2 linked regions of the Homo sapiens genome follow. The protein of the gene in region 2 purifies or fractionates together with the protein of the main gene of each other region. This does not show direct contact. Each region holds a gene or a part of one and is shown on either strand. Other genes may lie near its edges.

Region 1 (3,750 bases), on a different chromosome or scaffold from region 2:
CTACAACCATAGAAAACAGTAACACTGCCAATTACAACACTTATTGAGCACTGAGCAGGTGAGCTGGTTTTATGGGTGAGGCGACTGAGACACTGTGGTCAAGTAGGTTGACCAAAGTCAGCTGGCTTGAGAATGGTGGAACTAGAACTTGCTCACAAGCAGGCTGGCTCGAGGCCCAGTTCCCAAGCTCAGTCTGAAGAACAGCAGAATGAGCAGACTCATAACACGGCAAACCCGCTGATGCCATTACAGGCTAATTACACACCCGTCCAGGTTGCTATGAAAGGGGTCCCTTTTCGGGGGCAGAGAGGGGGCAGCTTGCAGGCAATGAGTACCAAGGTCCCAGCTGGTTCAGACTGTAGGCTAGGTGCTAAAGGATCATTCCCAAAACGTGCCATGCCCTCTCACTCCAGTATATCTGCATATGCTGTGCCTTTCATACGGCAAATCCCTTCCTTCCTTTGCCAGGCGAATTCTTCCAGCCTCTCAAGCCTTGTTGTGATGAAGCCTTTCTCAAACTCCATGCTGCTGGTAACTGCTTCTCTGTGGTCCCTGAAACTGGAGTGGGCTTAGGATGGAGCAGGGAGCAGACAGGAGGAGAAGGAGAGCAAAGGACAAAATTCCCACATACATGGGAAACGGGACCATAAAGTGGCTGCTTAAAGAGCACTGGGAGACAAGGGTAGAAGGTATAAGAGTGTAAAGGCTGCTCCACCATTCAGATGTGATTCTGAAGGCAATGGGGAGCCACTGAAGTTTCTAAAGCAAGGCAGTACCATGGTGAGGTGGTATTTTGGAAATCAGGGAGAGACAAAAGAGCTGTGGCCCTTCCTCCATAGCTCTCCTAGGTCATGAATTTCTCCAAAGAAACCAATACCATTAACTCCCCCATAGCAAAACACACAAAGCCAAAGTAAGCAAAAATAATCTCCACTCGGCCAGGTGCGATGGCTCATGCCTGTAATCCCAGCACTTTGGGAGGCCGAGGTGGGCGGATCACAAGGTCAGGAGATCGAGACCATCCTGGCTAACACGGTGAAACCCCGTCTCTTACTAAAAAACACAAAAAATTAGCCGGGCGTGGTGGCAGGCGCCTGTAGTCCCAGCTACTCAGGAGGCTGAGGCAGGAGAATGGTGTGAACCTGGGAGGCGGAGCTTGCAGTGAGCCAAGATTGTGCCACTGCACTCCAGCCTGGGCAACAGAGACTCTGTCTCAAAATAATAATAATAATAATCTCCACTCACCAAGGATCTTTCCTGTACTGCCTCATCACCATCCACAGCCAGCCATCCCTTACCAAAGACCTCCTGTGTACAATGGTAGTGCAGGCAGGTGGCTGGCGGCCTCACAGCCTAGTTGCACAGCAAGGCCAGACAGTATGCTCTAAGTGCCAAAGGATCTGTACAGAACAGGTAACAGGAGCCTCAGCTGTAGGGCTGAAAACACCATTATGGAGACACTATCTGAATCATGCCACAGAAGATGTGGTGCTGACCAGGTGACAGTGCCAAGGTGGGGAATCTTCAAGAACTGATAGCAAGGTCCATACACAGGACAAAGGAGGTGTCCCACTAGCCAGCACAGGGCTCATGCGGGGGTAGGGGGAAGATAAATTAGGTAAGGGAGTTAGGAACAAAGCAGGCATCCCACTAGCTAGCACAGGGCTAGTGCAGGTGGGGGAAAGGTAAATTAGCTGAGAGAGTTAGGCTGATGTGTGGGCTTCAACCGATTCAGACAAATACATATTTGGTCCCTTGGGTAGTGGAGAGCTGAGGGCTCCCGGCTGAAGGCAAGAAAAGCTGGCAGCCTGCTGTTGCTTTATGGTGCACACACACAGCTCTTACAGTCAATAGTCTTAAAAGGGCAGATAATCACATCTGCAGATTCCTACGGCACAGTTCCTGGGCTCAAAGCCATTCTAAATTAGTTGATTAATACTTTTCACATAATAATATGAAGACGAGCACAGGGCTTTTCTACAAACTTCCTGTAAACCCGAAAGTGACTAAGAACCTTTTAAAGTTTTCACAAAAATCATATTTAACCGTTTCCTTCAATGTCAAGAAATATTAAAAGGTTACAGACTGAATATAAAATATGAGGTTTGAGTGTGTGTGGACTACAACTTCTACAGTCTCCCAAAGCACCTGGGCACTGGCAACCACCCAGGACTGTGCTAAGACGATGAACAGAGATGAATCAAAAAGGCCCTTCCCTTAGAGCTTACCACCCCACGAATTTCACAAAGTAGGCACCAAAACTATGTGGCAAATTAATAAAACACAACCTATTCATATGAAATTTCACTTTAGGGCCATCTGTTATCCTGTACTCAGCACGTTTTTCTGCCCTAGAAGATTTTCTAGAATCATACTCTAAGAGCATAAATATCTAATCTATAACCTCTGATGTGAAATAAGAACTTAATTTTAATTCTATTTCCCCTCTACATGGCAGTTAATTAAATATTGCTCCTTGTGAGCAAACTGAGAGAGTCCCTTCTCCCTGGACCACACCTACCATGAGAAAAGGTGTGTTGTACTATAAAATGATAATGTTTCAGACTTTGGTCCATGGTCCAACTCCAAGAACTTCTTTATAACACCTCCTCAAGTAACTGAGGTCACAGGAATGTGAAAGCAAGACAGCTGCGTGGACACCAATGGCAGCTAAGTTAGGAAGCCAAAGAAGAAACATGTAACACTTGGAAACTCTCAGCATTATAATAAACCATGCGCACCTTCTCCCTGGACCACACCTACCATGAGAAAAGGTGTGTTGTACTATAAAATGATAATGTTTCAGACTTTGGTCCATGGTCCAACTCCAAGAACTTCTTTATAACACCTCCTCAAATAACTGAGGTCACAGGAATGTGAAAGCAAGACAGCTGCGTGGACACCAATGGCAGCGTAAGTTGGGAAGCCAAAGAAGAAACATGTAACACTTGGAAACTCTCAGCATTATAATAAACCATGCGCACCCGTGGCTATCTGTTTTACCATGTTAGCTCTTATAAAAACGAATGACGGAAACAACTTGTCATTTTAGTTGCTACTATAAAGACATTACTTCACAAGCCCTTCATCTTGCAGTAAAATACAGCAGTATATTCTCAAAAGCTTAGACGTAGATTAACAACGCAGAATTAACTGTGTAAGTATGCACAAAAGTATATACTTATTCAAGTCTAAGGATAGACATTCTTAAAGCACAGAATCAAATGCATGGCTAAATCTTATCTTCTTTGGCTAGTCCTAACTTACTAGTTCTTACAGACAGAGCAGCCATCACAAGATTATCATGAGAGACGGTGGCCACTGTGAGATTATCACAATCAGGTTTTTAAACCTTGGCTAAGCCTCACTCACAGAACTGTATGACCTAGCTATGTGAATCAAAGACTGCCAAATATAACTCAATGTTTTCTCTCCCCTTCCTCAATAATTAAGCCCTGAGTTTTAGCTGAATATATGGCCACGGAAAAAGAATCTTTCCCAGCCTGTCCTGCAGGTAACTGCGGCCATGTGACTGAATTTTGGCCTGTGGGATGTAAGCTATGCCCGTAAGAGAGTGGGCATGGCTTCTTCCTTCTCCTTCCCTTTTCCCTTTCTTGCTTGTTGGAATGTGGAAAATGACAGCAGGAGTCAACAGAATTACTAAGTGGAAGATGTCCGTGGAGGATGACAGCACAAGATGGACGAAGCCAGGTCCCTGATGATGACAACACTGCCACATCAATCTTGGAC
Region 2 (3,750 bases):
TCCTTTCGATACCATCTTCAGCAATATGTTTCATCTACTCATGAGAAATATTTTAATCTTTCACCGAAAGAAGTACAGTATTTCTTAAGGAAAAAAGATTCCACTTAAGAAACCTTGCACTAGCCGGGCGCGGTGGCTCACGCCTGTAATTCCAGCACTTTGGGAGGCCGAGGCTGACGAATCACGAGGTCAGGAGATCGAGACCATCCTGGCTAACACGGCGAAACCTCGTCTCTACTAAAAATACAAAAAATTAGTCGAGCGTGGTGGCAGGCGCCTGTAGTCCTAGCTACTTGGGAGGCTGAGGCAGGAGAATGGCGTGAACCCAGGAGGTGGAGCTTGTAGTGAGCCAAGATTGTGTCACTGCCCTCCAGCCTGGGCGACAGAGCGAGACTCTGTCTCAGAAAAAAAAAAAAAAAAGAAACCTTGCACCAGACCTAAATTTTGTAAATAAATGTCCCTGAAAAAATGGTACTTTATAATCCTTAAAGCACAAGACCCCTTTTTACCCACCAGCCATCTGTCATGTGAAATAGACTGTAACCTTGCTGAAATTTGTGTATGTGTGTGTTGTTACTAATGGAGTGAAAATAAGGAAATAGTCATAATCTGAAATATCCTGAAATGAAAATGATGCAGAGGATGTGATAAAACATGACCCTCTGTCTTGTTTTTTTCTTTTGCTTAGGTTTCAACGTATTGCAAACACCTCGCTATCATCATTGTTCTTTTCAATTTCTTTAACCTGTTAACCCAATTCAAGTCACTCAAAATTTGAGGTTCCTGGGAGATTCAGTTTTGCATCACAATGCCTTCAAATACTAGATGACTTTGCATATTGACTTTTTTAAGTTGGAGAGATTCAATGTCTCTGACATGAAAAAGTTTAAATATATGGTATAGGTTGTCCTTATGCTGCCAAGGATATGGAAATACAGCTAATGATAACTAATGACAAAACAGGAAGTCACCATTACCAAAATCTCTATCCTCTGCTACACATTGAATAAGATTATAGTTATCTTAAAATATAACTGAATTGAGTTACTCAATATCTACTAGTGAAACAGTGTGCTCAGTTAATACATTCTTCTTGCCCCATATTAATAACACCAGATTTTCAGAAATCCACTTGAGCTTCCTCTGAAGCACATTCTATTTAAGCCCACCTAACAAAAAATATACAACACAGAATTCTTTTACTATCAAATTTTTTCCCTGTTGTTTTTTTTTAAAACCCAGCAGCCTGGTTTCTTTAAAATAAACTATCCCAGAGCATTACAAGTTCACTTAATCCCCTGAAATGCCATATAGGGATGATGGCATGGTGCCATCACCGAAGATAGTCTCCTGGAGGAGTTTGAAAATTAACATTGTCCAGCACCTCCCCACACTGTCTAAGCCTAGAATTTTGCTTGATTGAGAAGCCCCATTACCTCTCACTCGACGTTTGCTGTGCTTCCTGGCTTTTAATCTGGATGTGTGGCTGGTGGTCTGGTCCAGGAGTAAGGTGATCACCAGGATGCAAATTACAAGTCCATTCTTTGCCATGGCTCTGGGGCAAGCCTGCTGAGCCATGTTGCCAGCCCCCTTAGAGCAGCTATGGAAGGAGACTACACAGCTACATCTTGCTCTGGGATGCCTGGGGCTGGCTTATAAAAGTGAGCTTCGGAGGTTGGCTGGAATCCTGCTGACGGAATGTTTGAATGCCTCTGCTGGCCACAGCATAAGGTGGCCTCTTGTTCTTGTGCCTCATGTTAGGCTTTCTATTTATTTAATTTCTGCTGCATTTCCTAGTGATTTGCCTTTTTGGAGTGTGTCAAACTTAACTACAGGTTTAGCCTGCTTTCTTTTTTTAAATTTAAACTCTGAGAAGATTGGGGTCTTTGTGAAAAATTCTTTGATTTGGAACTCTGAAATTCACTAAATGTTCTGGAAAATGGATTCAATTTAGTTTTCAGGGCAAAAAAAAAATTGGAGAAAAAGGAAAGTTACTGCGTGTGTGTGTGTGTGTGGTGCCACAGCACCATTCAAGCCAGTGTGTCTACTCATACTCATGTGTCTGCGCAGCTCAAGTGTAGCTTGGAAGTAGTTTTCTCAGTGGGATTTATGGAGATTGCGGAAATAGATACTCGATGATAAAATATAGGGCTTTCCTCCATTAGGATTTTGTAGACTCATCAAGAATTACTTCCTTGGGGCTGCATGTGGTGGCTCACACCTGTAGTCCCAGTGGGAGGCCGAAGTGGGTGGATCCCTTGAGGTCAGGAGTTCGAGAAGAGCACGGGCAACATGGCGAAACACCATCTCTACAAAAAAATAAAAAAATTCATCAGGCATGGTGGCACACATTTGTAATGCCAGCTACCTGGGAGGTTGAGGTGTGAGAATCACCTGAGCCCCAGGAGTTCGAGATCACTGCCCTCCAGCCCGGGCAAATTACTTTCTTGGGAAAATGTACCTTACAGTGAAAAGAAAATTTTAAAAAGTGAATTATTTCCATTAGAATAAGAATTAATGTAATAGATCAATAGCTATTTTTTCAGGTCCTCACCAATCATTTTTCCTTGAACACATTAAACAACACTTTCAAGTGCATGATGTAATAGCACAGAAACCTAGTGAGAGACTCGCCGGGCGTGGTGGCTCACGCCTGTAATCCCGGCACTTTGGGACGCTGAGGTGTGTGGATCACTTGAGGTCAGGAGTTCGAGACCAGCCTGGCCAACATGAGGAAACCCTGTCTCTACTAAAAAACGCAAAAAGATTAGTTGGGCGTGGTGGCAGGAGTCTGTAGTCCCAGCTACTCTGGAGGCTGAGGCAGGAGAATCGCTTGAACTCACAAGGCAGAAGTTGCAGTGAGCCGGGATTTTGTCACAGCACTCCAGCCTGGGCGACGGAGCCAGACTCCTTCTCAAATAAAAAATAAAAATAAAATTAATGTAATGAGAAACTCAATTATTCCTACCTTTAACCATAGGCTTTAAGGGCAAGTTTTCGGGACCTGATAGGCTTTTGCATCAAAAGCAATGGACTTGCATTACAGGAATAGCCGAGAGGGAGGAATTTAGACCCAGGGAAAGGCCTTCCTGCATTCCACATGCTTATTTGGCTGACCAGGTGCAAATGGAGGGCAGTGGTTGCAGATTTGGAAGGTCTGAAGGACCAAGTTCATTTTGCCTTTGTTTTTTCTTTGAGACAATACAGAAAGAATCAAGGAATGAGTGCTTCCTTCTGAATCTTAATGAGAAAAACCACAGTCTATTTCATCTTCATTTCCTCCAAGTTAAAGCCATTTTGTAACCTACCAATATAGTAAGACCATAGTAAGACCACTGATGTAGGAAAGTCTGACATGATTCAGCAAAGTAACTGTACAATTAAAGATCTGACCTCCGGTGTTGACTCTTTGTACCAACATGGGCAGTTAATGCATGGGCATTTGAGAACATTGTGAAGACAGGCTGAGCTCAGTTCACAACCTACCGCTTAGCTGTGTGATCTCAGGCAAGTCAATAAACCTCTATAAGGCTTCTCTCATCTTAACAGTGGGGGCTAGGAATGCTTATTTTACAGGGCTGTTGGAAAGATTAAATGAGATAATGGCTATGAAGCACTTAGCGCAATGTCCAGTATTTAATAATAAGATCCTTACCATTAATTACAATGGTACATACAATTTATGGAATGCCATCTTTTTAGTCTTCACAGCAAGCCTGTGGGATAAGTAATAATATTATCTCCATTTTA

What was found. Proteins that work in one complex are often made in the same cells at the same time.
Region 1: the proteins of CLEC3A (region 2) and ZZEF1 purify together in Homo sapiens (affinity purification with mass spectrometry; 2 studies listed by BioGRID and IntAct, with this or other methods). This does not show direct contact.

What each region holds. Positions count from the first base shown.
Region 1 is NC_000017.11:4,136,393-4,140,142, forward strand, and holds part of ZZEF1 (zinc finger ZZ-type and EF-hand domain-containing protein 1), read right to left. Parts: intron 1-3,750. UniProt on the Homo sapiens protein: Histone H3 reader which may act as a transcriptional coactivator for KLF6 and KLF9 transcription factors.
Region 2 is NC_000016.10:78,020,428-78,024,177, reverse strand, and holds the start of CLEC3A (C-type lectin domain family 3 member A precursor), read right to left. Parts: upstream 1,631-3,750; 5' UTR 1,552-1,630; coding exon 1,437-1,551; intron 1-1,436. UniProt on the Homo sapiens protein: Promotes cell adhesion to laminin-332 and fibronectin.